Linked DNA regions of Homo sapiens. The protein of the gene in region 2 interacts with the protein of the main gene of each other region in a pairwise test. Each region holds a gene or a part of one and is shown on either strand. Other genes may lie near its edges. The genes, in order: ZC2HC1A, EGLN3, MAPK6 and PLEKHA2.

Region 1 (7,038 bases), on a different chromosome or scaffold from region 2:
TTTTGTTTGTTTTTGGTAAGAGTCTCGTAAAATGAGGAATACCTTTAAACTTTAACAGAAGAGTTCTGAAGACCAAACTCTGAAGGAAAGAAAGCATTCTGGAAGAATGGCATAGCTGAAATCAAGACCCTTGAACAAAGAATAGTACCCATTAACTCTTCAAAAACTATTCCACGTAAATTCTTCCCATGAGAATTGACCAGAATTATTGAACAATTACAGATCTGTAAAACCATAAAGGTACAAAATCAGTCTACTCACTAATGCTACTGGAAAGAATGTTCTTCCACAAATCTTGCAAGGTAACAATTCTCCAACTTGGACAACACCTCCATTCTCTAAAACAGGAAGGAATTTAATAAATAATTTATATAACTTGAAATTGTGAAACTTCACATTTTAATGTTTTCTCTTAGTTTTATAGGTAAATTATCAGTTTTTGTGAAAAATGTTTTACTGCATTTTGAAATAAGCAAAATTATCTATGAAAAGGAGCATAATACTTAGTTATCAGTGGTGAAAAAGGTCAGGATAAATATGGAGGAGTCATGATTTAAAGATATCCAAACTGATACTGCTGGAAATATCTAGTTTTCTTGTAATTATTTTAAGCAAATCAATTTGTCATATTCTCTTAACTTATAGGCTATCTCTATGGTAAATTACTACATTTTAAGAACAAAATTTATCTTATTAATTTCCAAGGCATGAAGAAATACCATTAGTGATGAGTTCAGTGACTTCCTGAGATGATTTGAAGAATCTAGAATAAAACGAATCTTACTCTGTTTACCACCAAACAATAGAAAGTACAATGCTATAAGATTAAGATCACCTAGTTATGCAAATTACATGTATTATGTGAATTATTATTTTATACATATAATACTTATATTAAGAGTCAGTGGACTAGTAAATGGAGATATTCTGACCTTACAAACAAAATTAAATAAAGAGGTAGCTACAACTTTCACTCAATTATTAATAAAATTAATATAACTATCATGTAACTGAATACAACAAATGTTATTACTAAAAAGAAAAAAAAAGAAACTACAAAAAAAGAAACTGCATTCTTTGTGATTCTGCATAATTCATTTTGTCATTTTATTTTATTTCCAAATATCAAACATAAACTTGTTTTCATAGCTATAATTTCCTAAAAATGATACTTAAACATGTAACATGTTCCCCATAGTTTCTGCTGAATATTTTAGAGATGCTAAAATTCTTTTATCATATGAAAGACAAATAGAAAAACATTTTTCTTTAGAAGTAACAAACTAATTTTAAAAAGTACAATTATATAACTCCATATAACCTGATCCAAGACATTTAGTGAGTTCACAGAGAACTAAACAGGCAAACCAAAATAGATATTGGTAAGAATGCATTCAAATACAGTAACAGAAGAACTGTTTTGTTTTCTCATTTCTTACTCCACTGCCCTACTTGACTGGTGGATAGTGATTACTTTTCATCTCAGATGGAGGCAATGTTGTGTAGTAGCAGTTAAGCAGTCAACACTACAAAAGCAAAGCTAAGATTTGCCTGACTTGTCCTTCTCCAACACCAGGAGCTAAGTTATTTAGGGAGGGCAATCTCATTTATCTGGATCACTTAAGTCCACTAACAATCCAGAGTTACTAAATGGAAACCATTAGGTTCATTTAGATAAGACAGTCTTCAAAATGATGGTCTCAGTAACATCACACGCTAACTAATCTATTAAGCTTGCTTATAGTTTTAACGTATTCCTTTAAATACTAAGCAATGATTTTAAAATTCATCAATACAAAATATTAAAAAGCACCACATATTATACTTGCTTAAAAGTGTATTTGCTTATCTACTTCTTAGATGACAAAGCAAAATCTTATAAAAATTAACTATTGACAAAAATGGATTCAGCACATAGAAAAACCACGTACCAAGCATGTACTAAGTAATATTAACACAAGGACAGAATAACACAATTATTGCTCTCATAAAGCTAACATAATCTATATTATTTACTTATTAAATAGATCTAAGAACCAAATCAACTCCTATTTTTCATACAAAAAATTAAAACATAAAGCAACCAAATATTACCATATAATAATATCCAGTTCTTGACATTAATTTCCACAAGTTATCAAACATGTTTAAAATGTTTTTTTAAAAAACGAAAATTATTATCACTATAAGGCATAAACAGATACAATACCATTTTAAAATAATGCTATTTGGGGATAATTTAAAAGCAATTATCCCCCAAAGAAATATTGTTTAGAGAAGAATGTCATTACTTCACCCAAAATAAAGATATATATAAAACACATATATAAATTTATAATGTCCTCTAATATTAGCTGGTCATAGAGCATAGCACTATAATTGACAAAATATGGCATGTGCATGTGTGTTGATGTCAAGACCTACGGAGGGAACTTCTACCCGGTAGCAAGGTAACAATTCTCCAATTTGGACAACGCTTTCATTCTCTAAAACAGAATACCATCTCACGCCAGTTAGAATGGCGATCATTAAAAAGTCAGGAAACAACAGATGTTGGAGAGGATGTGGAGAAATAGGAACACTTTTACACTGTTGGTAGGAGTGTAAATTAATTCAACCATTGTGGAAGTCAGTGTGGTGATTCTTCAAGGATCTAGAACCAGAAATACCATTTGACCCAGCAATCCCATTACCGGGTATGTACCCAAAGTATTATAAATCATTCTACTATAAAGACACATGCACACGTATGCTTACTGCAGCACTATTTACAATAGCAAAGACTTAGAACCAACCCAAATGCCCATCAATGATAGACTGGATAAACAAAATGTGGCACATGTCTACCATGGAATACTATGCAGCCATAAAAAAGAATGAGTTCATGTCCTTTGCAGGGACATGGATGAAGCTGGAAACCATCTTTCTCAGCAAACTAACACAGGAACAGAAAATCAAACACCGCATGTTCTTATTCATAAGTGGGAGCTGAACAATGAGAACACATGGACACAGGGAGGGGAACATCACACTCCAGGGCCTGTCAGGGGGTGGGAGGCAAAAGGAGGGAGAGCATTAAGACAAATACCTAATGCATGTGGGGCTTAAAACCTAGATGACAGGTTGATGGGTGCAGCAAACCACCATGGCACATGTATACCTGTATAACAAGCCTGCACGTTCTGCACATGTAGCCCAGAACTTAAAGTAAAATTAAAAAAAAAATTAAAAATAATTTATGTAGTTTAAATTGTGAAACTTCACATTATAATGTTTTCTTTAGTTTCATTGGTAAGTTGTCAGTTGCTGTAAAACAAATTTCTTACTGTAATTTGAAGTAAGAAAAATTATCAATTAAAATGGGCTTAAGAGTTACCAGTGGGCAAAAAGACCAGAATAAACACAGAAAAGTCATAATTTAAGGATAACCAAGCTGATTAGTTGGAAATATGTAGTTTTCTTGTAATTATTTTAACCAAATCAATTTGTCATGTTCTTTTATCTTAAAGGTTATCTCTACGGTAAATTACTAAACCTTAAAAACAAAATTTATCTTATTAATCTCCAAGGCATGAAGAAATACTGCTGGTGATCAGTTAAGTGACATACTGAGTTGATCTGCAGAGTGTAGGGTAAAAAAAATCGTTTTCTCTTTATCACCAGATAATAGAAAGCATACTGCTATAAGGTTAAGATCACCTAGTTATGCAAACCGCATGTATTATTTGAATTGTTATTTTATACATATGATACTTATATTAAGATTAATTGGACCAAGGGGTTAAAATATTCTGACCTCACACACACAACTAATTAAATAATAAAGTGGCTGTACCTTTCTCTCAATTAAAATAATCATCATGTGCCTGGATATAAATTTTATTACTAAAATAATTTTTAAAAAAATATTAATAGAATCTTCTACCCAGATCATGATAAATACCTTAGGCCTCAGAGTCAAAAGCCACATTTTGCTCTAATTAAATTCATTAAAAGACATGACAGTATAGTTGAAAAAGCACTGGAATTTGTCTTACATTATCTAACTTCAAGTCCCCAGCTCTGTCACTGAGAACTATGAGTCCTCAGGCAAGATACTTAAGCTCTCTAAGGTTTAGATTTCCTTACATAAAATAAGGAAGTTAAGTTAAATGACATACGGTCCCTTTTTATCTGTAACGTACGGTAATTTAACAAAATCTACCTTAAGACTACATTAGCAAGAAAAGTACATGGAAGACATCTTTCTTACTGACTTTTTAAATAAAGTTTATATATAAGAATGATTAAACCAACTGCAGATGGTAGAACGAATGCTTCAGGTAGTGTACACCACATTAAGGAAATAACTTCCACTTATCTACACAGAGAACTGAGAACCTGAAAGGACCTACAGCAAAGAACTCCTTGTTAGAGAAGCCTTTAAGACATGAATTAGAAAGAAATATATGATAATCATATAGGCAGACTCAGTTTAACAACAGTTAAATGAGGCTAATATCTGCTCAATTTACTTTAAAATTTCAGAGGATCAATTATTACATATAAAAATGTTTCATAACCTACAGAAATAAAAAATATTACTTTCCAAGGCATGCAGGCAATCTCCACTAACCTTTCCTAAGTGGCAAAAACTAGCAAATTTTGCAGCTTATAAAAATACAAGAGAAAGATGATATTCAGAGGGGTGATTATTGGTGAATATTATATCAGAGAGCAAATACTGTTGAAATAAGCACTCAAGGTGATGGATACAACCAAGTCAATAAAGTACTTTAATATTCTAGAACTTTTAAGAAGCCAATCTCTCCTTACAAAATCTATCTGGCACACACTGTTGATTCTGTTATGAGTTGCTTATGTTTTGCAACTTCAAAACCTGCATGATGGTAAGACTTGAAATGGTATCTTTATCTAACACTATAAGTGATGAGAAATAAAGATTTTATTTCAAATAGTTGTGACATTTTAAAATGCATACATTTAAGAACTATGAGAGAACATTTTCAAAGAAATCTTGGAAATTAAGAACAGTTCTGGCCTCCCTTGTGGCATGTCCATCTCCTCACTGCTGGTAAGTCTTATATTCTATCACCGTTCATTTGACTCCTTTAACACTCAACAAATCTTTCTTCTGAAGCACTAAATATGTTATATCACTTTCTTCCCAATATCCTTTCCAAAATCGAATTACTTTCAGATCAATATTATCCAGTGTCTCAGAAGATTTACCCTTTTCAGCTCATCCTAGAAGAGTTTTTGTCTTAACCTAGTCAATGCCTACCCGACTCAACACACAACCTTCATCCTTCACAGCATTTTAGTCACCTACACTCTAGTTCAGCAAAACTACTGCCAAAACAACCAACTCTGGACTTTAAAACACTCAAGTTTCCTCTTTAACCATAGAATTCTACCTCCTACCTTTCTCTAAGTTACTATCTTGATCTCAGAGTGACTTGCTTTTCTTAATAAGTTCATTCCTGGCTGCATGTCCTTTCCTACCCAGTCTGAACATGACCCATCATTTATACTAGGAATTATCCACGAATCCCTTGCTACATGGCCAAATGTTTGGAAAATGGTACATTAACCTAAGTTAAATGGGTTCTCTTAGAGCAGAACTCCCTTAGTCTTAAAAAAAGAAGCTTAGTATGTTGTTATTTGCCCAAATTTATTTTATCAGAAATCCTTTGTACTCCCAAAACCAATGTTCTCCACCAATGTCCTGATGAGCACATTTTTTGAAACACTAACTTACATTTTCTGCTTAGTCCTTCTCTGCCTCTCATTCACTCACTGTCTGAACTGCAGGGAGACATTATCAGGCCAAGCACTATATTGAAATACATCCATTCCGCCGAGTGCGTTGGCTCACACCTGTAATCCCAGCACTTTGGGACGTCGAGGCAGGCAGACCACCTGAGGTCAGGAGTTCGAGATCAGCCTGACCAACATGCAGAAACCCCATCTCTACTAAAAATACAAAATTAACTAGGCTTGGTGGCACATGCCTGTAATCCCAGCTACTCCGGAGGCTGAGGGAGGAGAATCGCTTGAACCCAGAAGGCGGAGGTTGTGGTGAGCCCAGATCATGCCACTGCACTCCAGCCTGGGCAACAAAAGCGAAACTCCGTATCAAAAAAAAAAAAAGAAAGAAAGAAAGAAAGAAAGAAATACATTCATTCCTTGATTCAATAAGTATTTGTTGAGCACCTAGCATGAGGCAGAAACTGTTCTAGGAGGTAGGAGTATAAGGATGATAAAAAACAAATACTCTGATCTTATAGAGCTTTCACTGATCTAACAGGGAAAAAATGAATAAAAACTAATATATAAAATGTTACATGGTGATAACCACAATGAAGGTAGAACAAAGTAAGGGGAGAAGAGATGGTCATAATGCTGTCTTGGAGAAGTATGGATAATCAGGGAAAGTTTGTTTAATAAGGACACAATAATGACATTAAAAAGGAAGGTAACGGATTACTATTTACTAATTGTCAAATCTGAAGCTCTCTTTTGAATCCCCATCCTACTGGGCCTTTCTACAGTCTGAGCCACTGCTGACAAATCTCTTTCACCTTTAAAGTCCTTTCTCTCTTGGCTTCAATGTTTCCTTCGCTCCTCCCAAGCATGCTATGTTTTACCTATACTGGACCTGCTAACATGCTTTTTGTGATTTTCGCCATCTAACAAACACACACTGAGAGGGCCTCCTATGCACTAGGTACTTAGCTAAATGTTTTACATATATTACATTATTTAATACTTAATATAATTTAGGTAGTTACATATTTAATAGCTCCATTTTTTTCATAGCAGGGAAAATAAGGGTTCAGATTAAGTAAACTGCCCAAATCATAGAGCTAAAAAGAAACAAAGCAAGGATTCAAACACAGTCCTCTCCAATATACTGTCTATTAAAATATCTGGCATCCAACTCACTACCAAAAAGCAGTAAATGCTAGATAAATTAATAAAGATAAAGAATTATACAGTAAACTAGTATACATTTATACTACGAAAAAATAAAAC
Region 2 (3,386 bases):
ATAGGACCTTTGTCTGGAAGGAATAAACAAAGCCTTGGAGGTCAGATCTTTTGGCATATTGACTAAAATGAAAAATACAAGACATGCTTTTGGAACTATATGATCCTCCTTCAGAATATTGTCACTATCATTCTTATGACATTAGAAATCATGAAAAATATATAACTACAATTTTACAGAATACAAAATTCCTAATAAACTTCGTCCTTTCTTTCCTATTGAAATTTTTCAAGATTGTTCGAAAGGGGAATTCACTCTGTCCTATCTGAGACTAATGTTATTTTACTAATGTTGTTTCTAGGATATGGAAGGGCAAAATATAATTTGTTCAATTTTCAGATTCATAGTGGTCAGTGAATGACCTATTCATGGGTATACAAATACGAAGCAACACTATGACCAAAGCGTTCTAAAACTCTTAGCGTAAATGTGTAAGTCAACAATGTTAAAAAGATGTGTGTAAAAATTCTAGCAAGCCCTTCCTGCCAAAGATGGAATATATTAATCAAACCATTAGAATGCTAATGTAGGAGACTGAGTTTATTCAACAAGTATTTACTGAGCCCTTACTATGTTCCCGGCACTATTTTAGGTGCTGAGAGTATGTTGCATTGGTTAAAAATATACAAAATTCCTGTCTTCATTGTGCTTACACTCCAGAGAAAGGATACAAGACAATAAACATAATAAGTGAATAAATTACATAGTAATTTAGAAGGTGATAACTATTACCGTACAACAAAATAGAGCAGTCGTTGAGAATTAATGGTGACATGTCTTATCTGGAAATTTTCCAAAACCAGAAGAGGAAAAAGTAAACTTCTATCTTGGAAGACTATATATATATATATCCGTACATAACAAAGGAAAATATTTCTGGCTCTTTAATGTTCATGGGATTTTCAAGCAAGAAATTAAAGGGATTTTTAAAACATGAAAGTAATACTGAAAACTAGGAAAAGTAGCTTTTGCAAAATACGTGCTCAATACCAAGTTATTGAGGCAGTGCGATCTGTGCTTACTGCAGGAGTAGAAGCTTCCACAGTTCTAGCAAATTCCATGATTCTGGTCATACTGCCAACCACAGTGGATCTAGAGAGCCAAGTGAGCTGAAGAAAGACTGCTAGGGACAGACGAGAACTCAAATAGCTTTGAGATTTTTTTATTTCCACTTCCTTTTTTAAAATACATCACCTTGCTTTTTTTGTGTTAAAGGGTGAGCTCATTAAAAAGGAAAACTAAAAAAAAAAAAAAAAAAAAAACAGGAACACCCACATTTCCAACTCCACCTCCCCTCTCAAATTGTTCAAGATGCACACATGTTTATTGTATATCAGTAGACCTAGCTCTTTCCACAGTTATCAGTGGTTAACACAAAACTACCAGGGATATATTTTTCCTTTCATTTAAATTTAAATTCCATTCCAACAAAGCAACCAAAACAACTAATGTCTAGTTTTTTAGCTTCTGGGGAATTAGGTTCCCAGGTAAGAACTGAAAATGGAGAAAAAATTGTGTTGCCATCTTTATTCAGAAAGTCATTATTTTCAGCAAAATGGGGCTGAGGCAGAAAATCCAGGTTGCAGGACTGGGAAAAAAGGAGTGTCTGCCCCATGGGACACTTATAAATTGTTCACTATGACAGCAGCCCTTTCTAGAGGTATTAATGTCATTAGGTTGTGATAATTCTCCAGAAACCCCAACAGCCCTGGATTAAGAACATCTGGAAATTGTTCAGATGACACAAATTTCTCTGTTTCCTGCTGTTAAGGCTTCCGTGATGCCTCTCTGTGGCATCTACCACCTCCATTTTTTTCTTTTCAAACCTCCTCCTTTCAAATCAGGAAGTATACATAAAGTGCAAGTAAGGTTCATTCCCTCGCTGTGCTCCTAGGCTCTTCTCTTGATAGTATTACCGAATCTATCAGGTAAACCGCTGGCCGAGTAGGATGTCTGCAGGAATTTCTGGAGTTAGCAAGTAACTTCATCTGGCAAAGAGAGTATCTGAAGATCAACACAGTCTTGGCAAGAAAACATGAAGTACCACACACAAGACAGGGATGTGAAGGATGCAAGAAGTAGCAGGGAGATTGTTGTCACTGAAGAGGCCATCTTTGGATCTCAAAGAATTTAAGAGAATTCAGGAACCGTTACTAAAATGAACAAGGCCAGCAGATTTCAGAGCACGGTCAGTCTTCAGTGAGGGCAGATTCAGTTTTCCCTGGGTTGGGGACAGAAAGGAGAATAAAGAGGGTATGGAGTCAGCTCTGATGAGTTTTATGTCACAAATGTCACCAAAAAGCCTCCAGTAAACACTTCCCATCTTATATAAGCCTCCTAATAGAGCTCTGCCAAAGGATTCTCTCTTGACTTTGCAATGGGATCTTTCCCATATGCCTCACAGACTGTGGAGGAACTTTGGGTTTACATCCAGCATTGGCACCTCTTGGGCTAATGCTGAGCATAAGTTGTATGAAGTGTAGCCTCACTCACATATCAGAGTTAAGCAGTGTAGGCCATCTGGAAGAGAAAACAAACTGAGATTTCCTGGGTGCAATTTGGAGACCACTTTGGTATTTGAGAGGTATACAGTCCAAATGGGTTATGGGCTAGGCAATATTATATATGTTTCCTTACTGCAGGATCTCTTAGCGCCTTAATTTAATATGCTAGTGAGCAATGTGACTCTTTTTAAGACAGGCATACAGCATGCAACATTTCCCACATTTTTGGGACCAGGAATTTACCAAATTGGCAGGATTTGTGTTTTAATGCAACGTATTTTGGGAAATGCTGCCTTCTAATACTGGTTGGAAGGGATAGGAGTAGTGCTGTTATATTCAGTTTATATTACATGAGCCCTGCTGTTATACTGAGAGTCACAGTCTCACCCAATATAATAAATTTTGCCATCATAACTGGGTTCCATTATATTTCCTTTGCAATATGCCAAAAATCATGGGCAAAATTTAATGTTACATTTGACTGGTTAACATTAATAGGAAAAAGTTAACTATTTCCCATCTATCATAAACCATCATACATTCAGTGGGCATTCTCAGGGGAAGCCCCTTGCATTGTTTCTGATTTTTCTAAGAGCCCTAAGGCCAAGGTTTCAGGATAAAACCCATCAAGATGTCATTATATATAAAGCTAAGCCGTAACAGATTGAACAGAACATGTTTAAAACTACATAAAATTGAATAAAAGTCAAGGATTAACTTGATCAAAAGTCACAGAAAATTATCAAACACATACTAGTTAAATTCCTGAATTTCTTTTTGGCTTCTGCCCTTTCTTCAGCATCAAAGTACCAGACAGTCATAGCATATCTGTGAAAGATAAGCAGATATAAGGAAAGAGATTTAATGGTACTACTAGAAACA
Region 3 (7,038 bases), on a different chromosome or scaffold from region 2:
CTAAAAATACAAAAATTAGCCAGGCGTGGTGGTGTGCGCCTGTAATCCCAGCTACTGGGGAGGCTGAGGCAGGATAATCACTTGAACCCAGTAGATGGAGGTTGCAGTGAGCCAATATTGCGCCACTGCACTCCAACCTGGACGACAGCGAGACTCCGTCTCAGAAACAAAAAAAAGCATACAGTATAACAAGGTGTAAAGTAGAAGGAAAACAAGAACATATGTCTCATAAAATGAGAAGTAGATGAATAGGCCGAAAACAGTGGTCAACTATATTGAATGCTCCTACAAGAGCCTGTAAGACTAATTTAGTAAATAGAAACCACTGGCAACCTTGACTAGAGTAGTTTTAGTGGTAAGAATGGAGGCCAATCTGTAGTAGGCTGAGAAGCAAAGGGAAGTGGAGAGAGCACAAAAAGACAACTTTTGAAAACTGGCTTGGAAGAGAATCAGAGAAATGAGGCTGTAGCTAGAGAATAATGTGGAATGGCGAGAGGGCTTATAAACAAGGAAGCCACACTTAGTGCTGTCCAATAGTGTTGTCTGCAATGATAGGGATGTTCTATATCTGCACTGTCCAATAGAGCAGCCATTAGCACCATATATGGCTACTGAACAACTGAAATATGACTAGCATCACTGAGGACCTAAATTTTTTAAATTTTTCTTTTAACAGCCACACATTTCATTGCAGAAAGCACTATTGATTAGTAGCTACCATACTGGACAGTACAGCCCTAAAGCACATCTGCATATTAATAAAGATAATCCAGAAAGGGAAAAATTCATGATGTAGGCAAGAACGAGGTAAGTCCTTAAGAAGTCAACAGGCTGGCAGGGTGCGATGGCTCACTCCTGTAATCCCAGCACTTTGGGAGGCCAAGGCAGATGAATCACTTGAGGTCAGTAGTTCAAGACCAGCCTGGTCAACACAGAGACGAATCCGTCTCTACTAAAAATACAAAAATTGCCGGGCGCGGTGGTTCACACCTGTAATCCCAGCACTTTGGGAGGCCGAGGCGGGCGGATCACAAGGTCAGGAGATCGAGACCATCCTGGCTAACACGGTGAAACCCTGTCTCTACTAAAAATACAAAAAATTAGCCGGGCGTGGTGGCAGGCGCCTGTAGTCCCAGCTACTCGGAAAGCTGAGGCAGAAGAATGGCGTGAACCTGGGAGGCAGAGCTTGCAGTGAGCTGAGATCGCACCACTGCACTCCGCCTGGGCAACAGAGCGAGACTCCGTCTCAAAAAAAAAAAAAAAAAAAAAAAATACAAAAATTAGCCGGGCGTGGTGGTGGGCACCTGCAGTCCCAACTACTCAAGAGGCTGAGGCAGAAGAATCACCTGAATCTGGGACGCAGAGGCTGCAGTGAGCCAAGATCGTGCCACTGCACTCCAACCTGGCCAACAGAGTGAGACTCCATCTCAAAAAACAGTAAATAAATAAATAAATAAATAAATAAATAAAGAGAAATCAACAGGCTGAGCAGAGTGGCTCATGCCTGTAATCCCAGCACTTTTTGAGGCCGAGTCAGGATGATTGCTTGAGCCCAGCCTGGGCAACACAGGGAGACCCCGCCTATAAAAAAAAAAAAAAAAATTAAGATTAAAAAAAAAGTCAAGAGAAGACATCCAGAGCACAAATGGCACAATCTACATGGGATACAACATGAACAAAGCAAGGCATGAAATTACAGTAACGGGTAGAGATGAAGACTCAGAATATGTATTAAGCCTGATTGGAATCTTAAGCATAAAACTCAATTACAGAGGGCTATAAAATCCAAGCAGGAGGGGGAGGGTAGGTAACTTACATCTACTAAGGACCTATTATGTGACAGGCATTTTCTTTTTTTTTTTTTTTTTTTGAGAGGGAGTCTCGCTCTGTCACCCAGCCTGGAGTACAGTGGCACGATCTCGGCTCACTGCAAGCTCCGCCTGCTGGGTTCAAGCAATTTTTCTGTCTCAGCCTCCCGAGTAGCTGGGATTACAGGCATACGCTACCATGGCCAGTTTTTTCGTATTTTTAGTAGAGATGGGGTTTCACCACGCTGGCCAGGCTGGTCTTGAACTCCTGACCTTGTGATCCGCCCGCCTCGGCCTCCCAAAGTCCTGGGATTACAGGCATTAGCCACCGCGCCCGGCTGTGACAGGCATTTTCTTTTTTCAAGACAGAGTATTGCTCTGTCGCCCAGGCTGGAGTGCAATGGTGTGATCTCGGCTCACTGCAACCTCCGCCTCCTGGGTTCAAGCGATTCTCCTGCCTGGGCCTTCAGAGTAGCTGGGAGTACAGGTATGCACCACCATACTCAGCTAATTTTTTGTATTTTAGTAAAGACGGGTTTTCATCATGTTGGCCAGGCTAGTCTAGAACTCCTGACTTTGTGATCCGCCTGCCTCGGCCTCCCAAAGTGCTGAGATTACAGGCATGAGCCATCGCGCCCAGCCATGACAGGCATTTTCTAAATGACAAATTATTTCTCTCATCTCAAACTACAGTCTTGTAAATGTCATTTTACAAACAAGAGCACTGATGCTCTTTACACACACAGTAAATGCCAAGATTTGGACATAGGCCTGTGACTATAGGGTTAGAATCTTCCCACTGCATAAGGTGGGAGGTTAAGGCCAGGCACGGTGGCTCACGCCTGTAATCCCTGCACTTTGGGAGGCCGAGACGGGTGGATCACTTGAGGTCAGGAGTTCAAGACCAGCCTGGCCAACATGGTTGAAACCCCATCTCTACTAAAAACATAAAATTAGCTGGGCGTGGTGGTGCATGCCTGTAATCCCAGCTACTTGGGAGGCTGCAGCAGGAGAATCACTTGAACCCAGGAGGCGGAGGCTGCAGTGAGCGAAGATCACACCATTGCACTCCAACCTGAACAATAAGAGCAAAACTCCGTCTCAAAACAACGACAACAACAAAACAAAAAAAGGTAGGAGGTTAAGAACCACTGTTTCGGTACCTGGAATTAACATAAACAGCAGATCAATCTGGAAGTAATCAACAAGTGCCAACAAGCCTAGAGGGACTAGGCCAGAGGCAAAAACTATCCTGCCAATGCTTTCCACAGGATAACTAAGGAAAACTTAATAGCTACTTTTTAAAAATTCAAGTGAAAATACCTGTTAAGATGGAAAGAAACTGACTTGCTTACAACTTAGATTATCTACTTTATTGAACACAGATGTATCAATTAGAAAATCAGCACTGTTTTATAATACATACTGAAATAATATCTGGGCATATTAGAAAAACTAAGTCAACATACTCTCTCTCCAATTTGTACATTAAGAAAGGACAATTATTAAACTGAGTCTAACCAGTTATTAAATTACAGCTTAGATTTTAGAGTGGGCAAAGATCATCTAGATCTGTGCTGTCCATGTAACCACCAGCTACATCCAACTATTTTTATTTTTTTTTGAGACGTAGTCTTGCTCTGTCACCCAGACTGGAGTGCAGTGGCGCTCACTGCAAGCTCCGCCTCCTGGGTTCATGCCATTCTCCTGCCTCAGCCTCCCAAGCAGCTGGGACTACAGGCGCCCGCCACCCGGCTAATTTTTTGTATTTTTAGTAGAGACAGGGTTTCACCATGTTAGCTAGGATGGTCTCGATCTCCTGACCTCGTGATCCGCCCGCCTCAGCCTCCCAAAGTGCTGGCATTACAGGCGTGAGCCACGGCGCCCAGCCCCAACTATTTAAAGGAATTAAAATTAAATAAAAAATTCAATTCCTCAAGTGCACTACTTGCTCGTCAAGTATTCAACAGTCACACATGGCCAATGGCTACCTCACTGGATAGCACAGAACACTTCTATCATCATAGAAAGTTCAACTGGGCAGTGATTAGCTTCCAAATTTTCCATTTGACTTTTTTCAGAAGGGCCAGTGGAAAGAGCAACTCAGAAGACTAACGAGCTGAGCAACCATGTATGCATCATTTTAATTTTTATTTATTTACGTATTTTTTGAGACAGGGTCTCTTGCTGTTGCCCAGGCTGGAACGCTGCGGTGCGATCACGGCTCACTGCAGCCTCAACCTCCTGGGCTCAAGCAATCCTCTCATCTCAGCCTCATAAGTAGCTGGGACTAAAGGTGTGCACCACTACAACAGGCTAATTTTATTTTATTTTGTAGAGACAGGGTCTCACTATGTTGCCCAGGTGTATGCATCGTTTAGCAGTGCTTCTCAAACTGAATGCGCACTGAATGACTTGAAAATCTTGTTAAAATGCAGGTTCTTCCCAGCACGTTAGGAGGCCAGGAGTTTGAGACGAGCATGGGCAACACAGTGAGACTCCAATTCTTAAAAAAAAAAAAAAAAAAAAAAAAGGCAGTGTATGATGGCACATGCCTGTAGTCCCAGCTACTGAGGTGAGAGGATTACTTGAGTCCAGGAGTTCCAGGTGGCAGTGCGTTATGATCACACCACTACACTCCAATCCAAACTGGGCAACAGGGCAAGATTGTGCCTCTTATTTACAAAAAAAGAAGGCCGGGCGCGGTGGCTCATACCTGTAATCCCAGCACTTTGGGAGTGCTGGGCGGGCGGGCGGATCCGAGGCGGGCGGATCACAAGGTCAGGAAATCGAGACCATCCTGGCTAACACGGTGAAACCCCGTCTCTACTAAAAACACAAAAAATTAGCCAGGCGCGGTGGCAGCAGCTGTAGTCCCAGCTACTCAGGAGGCTGAGGCAAGAGAATGGCGTGAACCCAGGAGGCGGAGCTTGCAGTGAGCCAAGATCGTGCCACTGCACTCTAGCCTGGGTGACAGAGTGAGACTCCGTCTCCAAAAAAAAAAAAAAAGAAAAAGAAAAAGTAGATTCTAAGATTCTAATTCAGTAGGACCGTAGGACTGAGATGAAGTCAAGATTCTAACGTCTATCAAGTTCCCAGGTGATGCTAATACTGTTGGTCCAGAAATCACACTTTCAGTACCAAGATCTTAGATCTCTTCAGGCCTTGGTTTCCTTAGCTGTCAAACGATGTACATGAATGAAGCAAGATAATGCCCATGACCCCTCCAAAACACTAATATTTTAAAGTTTTATGATTGTACAGAATTAAATGCATACAGATTTGCACTTTCTGCAGAGGCAGACTTTTCTGAGGTAAATGCTAGGATTCTAAAAAACAAGTTTTATGATACCATTTTTTTCTGTGAAAAAAATACCAAATTTAACGAAAATCAATGGGAAATTGTATTTGCTATACAAACATTCAATCTCTGAACAATTTTTTAGAAATGGACTTAGAAGACTGACATGTATAAAAGACAAAACTTTTAGAACTCTATTGGCTGGGCGCGGTGGCTCATGCCCGTAATCCCAGCACTTTGGGAGGCCCAGGCAGGCGGATCACAAGGTCAGGAGATGAGACCATCCTGGCCAACATAATGAAACCCTGTCTGTACTAAAAAAAATACAAAAATTAGCTGGTCATGGTGGTGCGCACCTGTAGTCCCAGCTACTCGGGAGGCTGAAGCTGAAGAATCGCTTGAACCTAGGAGGTGGAGGTTGCAGTGAGCCGAGATGGCGCGACTGCGCTCCAGCCTGGCAACAGAGGGAGACAGCGTCTCAAAAACAAAAAACAAACAAACAAAAAAACTCTTAGAGAGACACACATTATTTTCCAAATACGCAGTTCATGGAGGTGAAAAAACCAATCAATGCTGGACTAGGCCCAAATCACTGTCACCTTAAAAGCATCAGCTTCACATGAAAGCAACCCCTGGAAAATGCCATTAACTACAGTAACATTGGAGTTGTTTTTGTGAAGTCTCAGTCAAGGCTCTCAGCAATAAAAATGAGCAAAATTCCCACACCACTGGCAGGTTGTAGTGTAATGTTCAACAGCCCACAAAACAGGCTGAAGGAACTAATGAAGGCAGCCAACAATGCCACACAGAATTTACTTCTGAGGCATCTTCTTTCCATTTTAACAGGGGACCTAGAGTAACACAAGGTTCAAATGTAACAAAGAACTGGATAGCAGTGGTAAGAAGGCTCAGCATTTCATAAAGCAGTACCTTGGAGACAGGAAGCAGGCTAAGATATCCAGTTATTTTGTTTGTTTTTCGGTTTTTTTTTTTTTTTTTTTTTTGAGACGGAGTCTCGCTCTGTCACCCAGGCTGGAGTGCACTGGCACAATCTCGGCTCACTGCAACCTCTGCCTCCCGGGTTCAAGCGATTCTCCTGCCTCAGCCTCCTGAGTAGCTGGGATTACAGGCACGTGCCACCACACCCAGCTAATTTTTGTATTTTATTAGAGACGGGGTTTCACCATGTTGGCCAGGATGGTCTCGATTTCCTGACCTCGTGATCTGCCTCCTCAGCCTCCCAAAGTGCTGGGATTACAAGCGTTAGCCACTGCCCCCGGCCTCAGTTTGTTTTTAAACTCTGAATTATGCACTACAGCTAATTACCTATATTTGAAAACAATGCCGAAAATACGTTAAACCTCTAAGTAATGTGATGCTCTGAAAATTTTCAATACTTTTATATTTGTATTTTTATGTTTCCTCTAGTAGGAAATTTTTTTTAAGTTTGAATTAAACTTTGTAAAAAAAAAACCTCTAGGTATAAATCATGCAATACTCTTCCAAAATAGTTCCAAAAATTTAATTCACATTAACAATACATTTTATGGGCTGGGAGCAGGGGCTCACACCTGTAATCCCAACACTCTGGAAGGCTGAGGCAGGCAGATTGCTTGAGCCCAGGAGTTCAAGAACAGCCTGGGCAACACTGTGAACATTCATCTCTACAAAAAATACGAAAAACTAGCCAGGCATGGTCGCACACAGCTGTAGTCCCAGCTCCTCCGGAGGCTGAGGCAGGAAGATCACCTGAGCCCGGGAAGTAGAGGTTGCAGTGAACAGTGATCGCACCACTACACTCCAGCCAGGGTGACAGAGCAAGACCCTGTCTCACAAAAACAACAAACACTTTACTGTCCACAAACTCCTCAAATCCCTTTGGAAAAATAAACAGTATACACAGAAAAACCAGAGGATGGGGTGGGAAAT
Region 4 (7,038 bases), on a different chromosome or scaffold from region 2:
AATTACCCAGACTTGACCAGACATTCATGGGTCTTCAGAACATCCTTAAGAAATATGGTGCGCAGTGGTTCTCGGTCCTGGTGGAAAGAACAGAAAGACAGGTAAGTGAGGCTGTCTGTGTCATATCACGACCCAGACCAGCTGACCAATACCCCTTTCTCAGAGATGGTTGGCTAAAATCAGGTTGACAAATAATCTGGTCTCAAAATAATCAGCAAGAGAAAAAAAAATCTGGCTGGGCAGAGTGGCTCATGCCTGTAATACCAGGACTTTGGAAGGCCAAGGCTGGAGGATTGCTTGAGGCCAGGAGTTCAAGACCAGCCTGGGCAACATAGTGAAATCCTGTCTCTACAAAAAATCCACCACTGTGCTCCAGCCTGGGTGACAGGTGACAGAGAAAGACCCTGTCTCCAAAAACAAGAAAAAAGACAAAAAAATATAAGAAGAAGATGTTGTGTAGCTATGACTCTGACCACACAGCAGCTCACTGCAGAGAGGACACTTTAGTGTCACTGTAAAGATGTGTGCACAGAATGGAGATAAGACAGAGGCGCCTTTGAAGTCTTTGTGTGCCCACATCTCCACTCATGCACGCTCTCCTGTGGGTGTGCACCTATGCACCTCTTAGTTTCCATGACCTCTCAGAAGGGCAGCAAAGCTACTACAAACCTGCTCACACTTGAAGTAGCAGATGGTAAAGTCATCAAGTGCAAAGAAGCGACGTTTCCAGCTCTTCCGCTGTAATAAAAAAATAAAAGGCAGACCATTAGCGAGAGGTGCCCAGCATTGTGGAGGGTGTACTCATGCTAAGCTCCCAAGGACCCAGCCCCATGGAAGTCCGGCTCCCACATTCAGCAGGGGCAAGGGCTTCTTCATATCAGGGGCAACACCTCTGACAGGTGGGAGCCAAAGGTCAGTCCCAAAATCTCACCCTCAAAGGTGGAGGCTCCATGGAGGACTGAGGCACCTCCTGTCAATCCCCTCTCACCTCTGCTATGTCTACAGCCACTGGCTCTGAGGAGTCACCAGAACCCCAATTCAGCCCCTGTGCTGACACTCACCACATTCCCTTGCTTCACGCAGTAACCACTCTTAATGAGGGGAGGCCCAGTGGAAGCACGGCAGCCTGACGTGGGGATGTAACTCTGAGACCTTCGAAGGATGGTGTGGGACCCGGGCTCACTCCCTTCCTGCCCATCCCCACCGTTCTGCAAGGAAACAGTGTCAGTATCAGCGCCTCCCTCCCTCTATGCAGCCACAGCCCCACCTACCTCCCTCTGCCTGAATCTCTGGCCTCTTTGCCCTAAGTCAAAGAAGAAATAAATGGTGGGCACAGTGGCTCACGCCTGTAATCCCAACACTTTGGGAGGCCAAGGCAGGAGGATCGCTTGAGCCCAGGAGTTCTAGACCAGACTGGACAACACAGTGAGACCCAGTCTCTACAAAAAAATTAAAAATTGTTTTAAAATTTTTGTTTAATTTTGATTTTAAAATTTAAAAATTAAAAAAAAGAATTACCCAGGCGTGTAGTCCCAGCTACTCAGGAAGCAGAGGTTGGAGGATGGCTTCAGCCCAGGAGTCTGACACTGAAGTGAGCCATGATTGCACCACTGCACTTCAGTCTGGGCAACACAGCGAGACCTTGTCTCTAAAAAAATTAAATAACAACATGGCAAAACCCCATCTCCAACAAAAAATACAAAAAAATTTAGCCAGGCGTGGTGGCACATGCCTGTGGTCCCAGATGAGGTGGGAGGATCACTTGAGCCTAGGAAGGCTGAGGCAGGAGGATTGCATGAGCCTAGGAGGCAGACGCTGCAATAAGCCGTGATTATGTGTATATGCACTTCAGGCTGGGTGACAGAGGGACACCCCATCTCAAAAAAAAAAAAAAAAAAAAAAAACTTAAATAAATATAAATAATTAAAACAGGAAAATAAACCTTTCCTTTCTCTGTCATGCACTCTACTGGGTACTTTCACAGAACCAGCATCAGGGAGGTTGGGCCGACCCAGGAGAAAGGGAAGGATAGGGAATGTGAACCAGCAGGGACACCAGGCTGGTTTCCAGCCTTGTTTGCCATGCTCTGTCCCATTTCCTATGGTTTCACAAACCCTCATCTTCTGTGTCTCCCGTGTTCGGCACAGAACTGCACAGGCCACATGGCTTCAAGATGCAGCAGCCTCCACTTCCGCACTGCCGTCACTAACACCCATGAATGGGGATGTAACATGACCTGTACTTTCCTGATGGCTCCACTGGCACCAGCTGCCCCCCACTCCCACCCTCCTTTTCCCCAGTACAGTGCTCCGAGCACATCATGGGCACACCATGGACACTTCCACACCCCCACTCCCCCCGCAGCCCCAGTCAGGCCCCTCACCTGGCTGATGGGTGTGTGGACCACCACCCCTCCAATGATCTCCGTCTTGTAGGCCACCTGTGGCTTCTTCTCCAGGGCTGGAGGAGCTGCTAAGCTCTTGAGAACTTCAGTGGTCATGGGTAGGCCCCCACCTTTGGGAACCTGGGGTGAGCGGCAGCAACAATCAATGGGGAACAGAACATTTAGGAAACATGGGGAGCCCAAAACAGAATGGGGCTGCCGTGAGAAAAGCTCATGTGCCAAATTACAGTCAGACTTGCGTGTCCTCCCCAAGCCTTCCACAGTCCAAATCTGAATATGAGCATCTCAACCAGCAACGCCCTCCCCCTACACAGATACAAACTGACTCCAGGAATTTCTTGAGCGCCTACTTATGAGCCAGCCCTTCCCTGGCTAGAAACCAAAGATAAAGTGTCAAGCGAAACACACGTGGGTCCCCACCTTCACGGCACTTACATGCTAGTAGGGGGAATGACAAAAAAAAACGTAAAACAAACAGAGTAATTACAAATGGTGGTGAGTGGCACAAAGAAGATCAAGAGAGCTGAGGCAGCGCACAGCAGGGGACCTGCTGGAAACAGAGTGGGCAGGGAGGTCTCTAGAGGAGAAGGCAGGGAGACACTCAAACGGCAACCTGGAGGGTAAGCAGGAGATGGGGGCCAGGTCCGGGGCCTCACACCTGTAACCCCAGCACTTTGGGAGGCCAAGGCAGGAGGGTCACTTGAGCCCAGGAGTTCAAGACCAGCCTGGGGAACATAGTGAGATCCCATCTCTACTAAAAATGAAAAAAAAAATTAGCCAGGTGTGGTAGCACACAGCTGCTCAACAGGCCAAGGTAGGAGAATCTCTTGAGCCCAGGAATTGGAGGCTGAAGTGAGCTATAATCACACCACTGTACTCCAGGCTAGGTGACAGAGACCCTGTCTCGAAAAAAATACAAAATAAAAAACTAAATAAAAGGAACCAGGAACATGAAGCTGGGAGAAGGCATTCTGGGCAGATTGAACAGGTAAAAATGCATGCATGCCTTTGTAGAGACAGAACAAGGGGTCCATGAAGTCTGGAGCCAGAAGATGTGTGGTATAACCCTTCACCTCTCACGAACCACCTGAGAGACCTTTGGCAACCATCAAACCTTTCTAGGCCTAAACCGTCTCATGCATAAAATGAAAAGTGGAATAATATTTATCATAACCATCGTTGTGGTTATCAAATGATAGAGTATATTAAATGCTTTAGAAACACAACTAAAAAGAAAAACATATTACAAAATATTATAATTAAGGCTTCCCACGTTGTTACTAATAATTATACACAGAGCCCTTTTGGAAGAATGAGCTATCTTTGCTCTTCCTTGACAGAGATATGGTACCACAGCTGATCAAATCATCATAAAATTTTTATTGTTAGTTGGAAATCACAGGCCAGAGGTTGCAAATTGGTGGCCCACCCACTGACTTTGCCCAAACAATGTTTTGTTAGTCACATGCAGTATTTTTTAAAATCTGCATCTAAGTTTTGGGATATTTCACAGAAAAATCCAGATTTTCAGCTATGCAGCAGTTCCCTTTTAGATAGAAAATACATTGTGTTTGCACAGTCCCTACCATTCTCCCCAGCAGAACGGGAGAGGCCAGGGGTCAAATGTCACTTATCCTCATTCCTGTTGCCCTGTTTCCTCCTCCTTGCCCACTTCACTCATTTATACTAGAGTCTGCAAATGCTGAGGAAATCTTTCATTTTGTTAGAAAGAAAAAAAAAAAAAGAGGTCCAGAACAGTTGAGTCATTTACCCAAAGCCAGGATTAACAGCTGAATGTCGGCCAGGCACAGTGGCTCATGCCTATAATCCCAGCACTTTGGGAGGCCGAGGCGGGCGGATCACCTGAGGTCGGGAGTTCGAGACTAGCCTGACCAATATAGTGAAATTCCGTCTCTACTAAAAATACAAAAATTAGCTGGGCGTAGTGGCGGGCACCTGTAACCCCAGCTACTCAGGAGGCTGAGGCAGGAGAATCGCTTGAACCCAGAAGGCAGAGGTTGCAGTGAGCCGAGATCACGCCATTGCACTCCAGCCTGGGCTATAGAGCGAGACTCCGTTTCAAAACAAAAACAAAACAAAAAAACAGCTGAATGTCTACTAAACTCTGACTTCCCACCAGTGCCCCAGCATCACAATGCCCCACCTTCAGGAGAACGCAACACCCTACATCTATCTGCCGGGACGTCACCGGGACTTCGAGAGAAAAGCTAAGGTCCTCTCCCACTTCTACAGCTTTCAGAGTAAGAAAGACCTAAGGATCCGAGCTCAGAGCTATATGACAGCCCTGTCATTTGGTGTCTGTTCAAAACAATAAGAGCACCCTGATTATGCTGGGCCCCCACAAAGACAACGAGACCTTCTCTTCCTGGACTGCACACTCAGTTTACATAGACAAGGACGTCCTCTGCCCCCTCCCTACCCCTCCAAATCAGGCCAGAAATTCCGCCTTCTATTTTCTTTCTGGCTGAGAGATACCAGCAGTTACAGTTTCTCTGGGCCACCATTCAGTGCCAGGCAATGCACTGATAAGCTCTTTGCTGCATTATCACTAATCTTATCAACCAGGCATGATTTTCTCCACTTTATAGATGAGGTCAACTCAAGCTCATTAAAATTAAGTGATTTGGCTCTAGGACTGCCTGACTCCTTGTTGCTGCATGTCACGACCTACCTAAGCTACTCTTTCTCACTTTCTGTGAGTTCTGTTATTATGTAACCACATTTTTAGGGATGTTGATTTTTAGTTGATATTTAGTGATTAAAATCACCATGGAACTGCAGAAATTTCCCCTAAATGACCCAGATGAATTCCTGAAACCCAGCAAAGAAGGAGGGAAATAACAATTTTTTTTTTTTTTTTTTTGAGATGGAGTCTTGCTCTGTCGCCCAGGCTGGAGTGCAGTGGCGCGATCTCGGCTCACTGCAATCTCCAGCTCCTGGGTTCAAGTGATTCTCCTGCCTCAGCCTCCCAAGTAGCTGGGATTACGGTGCATGCCAACATGCCCAGCTAGTTTTTATATTTTTAGTAGAGACGGGGTTTCACCATGTTAGCCAGGCTGGTCTCGAACTCCTGACCTTGTGATCCACCCGCCTCAGCCTCCCAAAGTGCTGGGATTACAGGCGTGAGCCACCGCGCCTGGCCAGAAAGTAACTTTTTAGAGTTCCCAGTGGCCAGAAAAGGAGGCACAGAAGCTTGGCTGCTGTGTTTCCTCTCAAAATCCCGAAGAACACTGTTTGTCAGTGCTTATGCTCCGGTGTCATGCAGTGCTTCAGATCAACATGCAGAGCCTTTCCAAAGCTGTTTACACTACCTGAGACTTCTTTAAGAGATGGGCTTTCACTCTGTTGCCTAGGCTGAAGTACAGTGGTGCGATCATAACTCCCTGCAGCCTCAAACTTCTGGGCTCAAGTGATCCTCCTGCCTCAGCCTCCTAAGTAGCTGGGAATACAGGTGTAAGCCACCAGGCCTGGCTAATTTTTTTATTTTTTATTTTTTTTGAGGTGGAGTTTCACTCTTGTCGCCCAGGCTGGAATGCAATGGCACGATCTCGGCTCACTGCAACCTCTGCCTCCCAGGTTCAAGTGATTCTCCTGCCTCAGCCTCCTGAGTAGCTGGGACTACAGGCGTGTGCCACCACGCCCAGCTAATTTTGTATTTTTAGTAGAGACGGGGTTTCACTATGTTGGCCACAGGTGATCCACCCACCTCGGCCTCCCAAAGTGCTGGAATTACAAGCGTGAGCCACTGCACCCAGCCATCCATCCTCTCTCTTTTCATCACTCTCTCTTTTCACGGGTTTACCAAGGTTTATCAGAATAAGAAGCTAATCAGCAAAAGTGCTTATAGGAGACTCAATTACACTCAGGTTGGGTCTAGCAATATGAATACTATATACGTGTACAAATTTCTTCTATACAGTTGTTCACAGGAACCCTGAGAAATCTGGGAGGATAATTTGCTGCAGCATGTAATAGTCACTACTGGAAGCCCCTCAAACATAAGCATTTCTGACTGTATGATACAGAAACAAACTTTTCAGCAAAGAAGCCATGATCTATATAAGCCAGGAGTCTGCCTGTCTTATTGATTAAAAGTCTAGTTTTTTCCAAAACATAGTTTCCCCTCTCCATCCTTCCTACCCTTCTTCCTTTCTTTTTCTATATCTCTAAGGAAAAAGAAAGGAATTCTTCATTAGCCAACTCAAGGAAAAAGAGCACACTCGTAGGACAGTCCATGAACGAGCTCTGTGATGCTTTTAAACAGAAGGCTTTTCTAGGACAGGGAGGCGGATGGCTTGGACTGACCCTGCAGGCAGCCTCTGAAAGTAAGAAGAGTATCCCCCAAGCTGGGAAAAAGTTCTGACTTCCCTCCCCATATGCTTTTCCCCTTACTTGACTTTTCACAGTCACCAATCCATTTTCCAATCCTACCACATTCTGAATCAGCATCCCAGAATCACCCGAAACATGACTGATCGGGAGCCCTCCCAGGAAGCACAAAGGGGACGCTCCATGAACTTCCCCTTGAACTTGATTCAAACTCAGACTCTCAGTTCAACTTGTGTTTGGTCAGCCAAGGAAAAAGACGAGGTGGGAGAGAACTGGGTACAGAC

Evidence for each region.
Region 1: the proteins of EGLN3 (region 2) and ZC2HC1A interact in binary tests that used the Homo sapiens proteins (3 or more experiments, as listed by UniProt).
Region 3: the proteins of EGLN3 (region 2) and MAPK6 interact in binary tests that used the Homo sapiens proteins (3 or more experiments, as listed by UniProt).
Region 4: the proteins of EGLN3 (region 2) and PLEKHA2 interact in binary tests that used the Homo sapiens proteins (3 or more experiments, as listed by UniProt).

Annotation. Positions count from the first base shown.
Region 1 is NC_000008.11:78,669,087-78,676,124, reverse strand, and holds part of ZC2HC1A (zinc finger C2HC domain-containing protein 1A), read right to left. Parts: intron 1,082-7,038; exon of another isoform or gene 339-1,081; coding exon 262-338; exon of another isoform or gene 36-261; coding exon of another isoform or gene 21-35; intron 1-20.
Region 2 is NC_000014.9:33,923,702-33,927,087, forward strand, and holds the end of EGLN3 (prolyl hydroxylase EGLN3), read right to left. Parts: intron 3,333-3,386; coding exon 3,259-3,332; intron 2,222-3,258; coding exon 2,190-2,221; 3' UTR 526-2,189; downstream 1-525. UniProt on the Homo sapiens protein: Prolyl hydroxylase that mediates hydroxylation of proline residues in target proteins, such as PKM, TELO2, ATF4 and HIF1A. Target proteins are preferentially recognized via a LXXLAP motif.
Region 3 is NC_000015.10:52,022,182-52,029,219, reverse strand, and holds part of MAPK6 (mitogen-activated protein kinase 6), read right to left. Parts: intron 1,582-7,038; exon of another isoform or gene 1,347-1,581; intron 1-1,346. UniProt on the Homo sapiens protein: Atypical MAPK protein. Phosphorylates microtubule-associated protein 2 (MAP2) and MAPKAPK5.
Region 4 is NC_000008.11:38,946,336-38,953,373, reverse strand, and holds part of PLEKHA2 (pleckstrin homology domain-containing family A member 2), read right to left. Parts: intron 2,525-7,038; coding exon 2,384-2,524; intron 1,209-2,383; coding exon 1,062-1,208; intron 739-1,061; coding exon 670-738; intron 78-669; coding exon 7-77; intron 1-6. UniProt on the Homo sapiens protein: Binds specifically to phosphatidylinositol 3,4-diphosphate (PtdIns3,4P2), but not to other phosphoinositides. May recruit other proteins to the plasma membrane.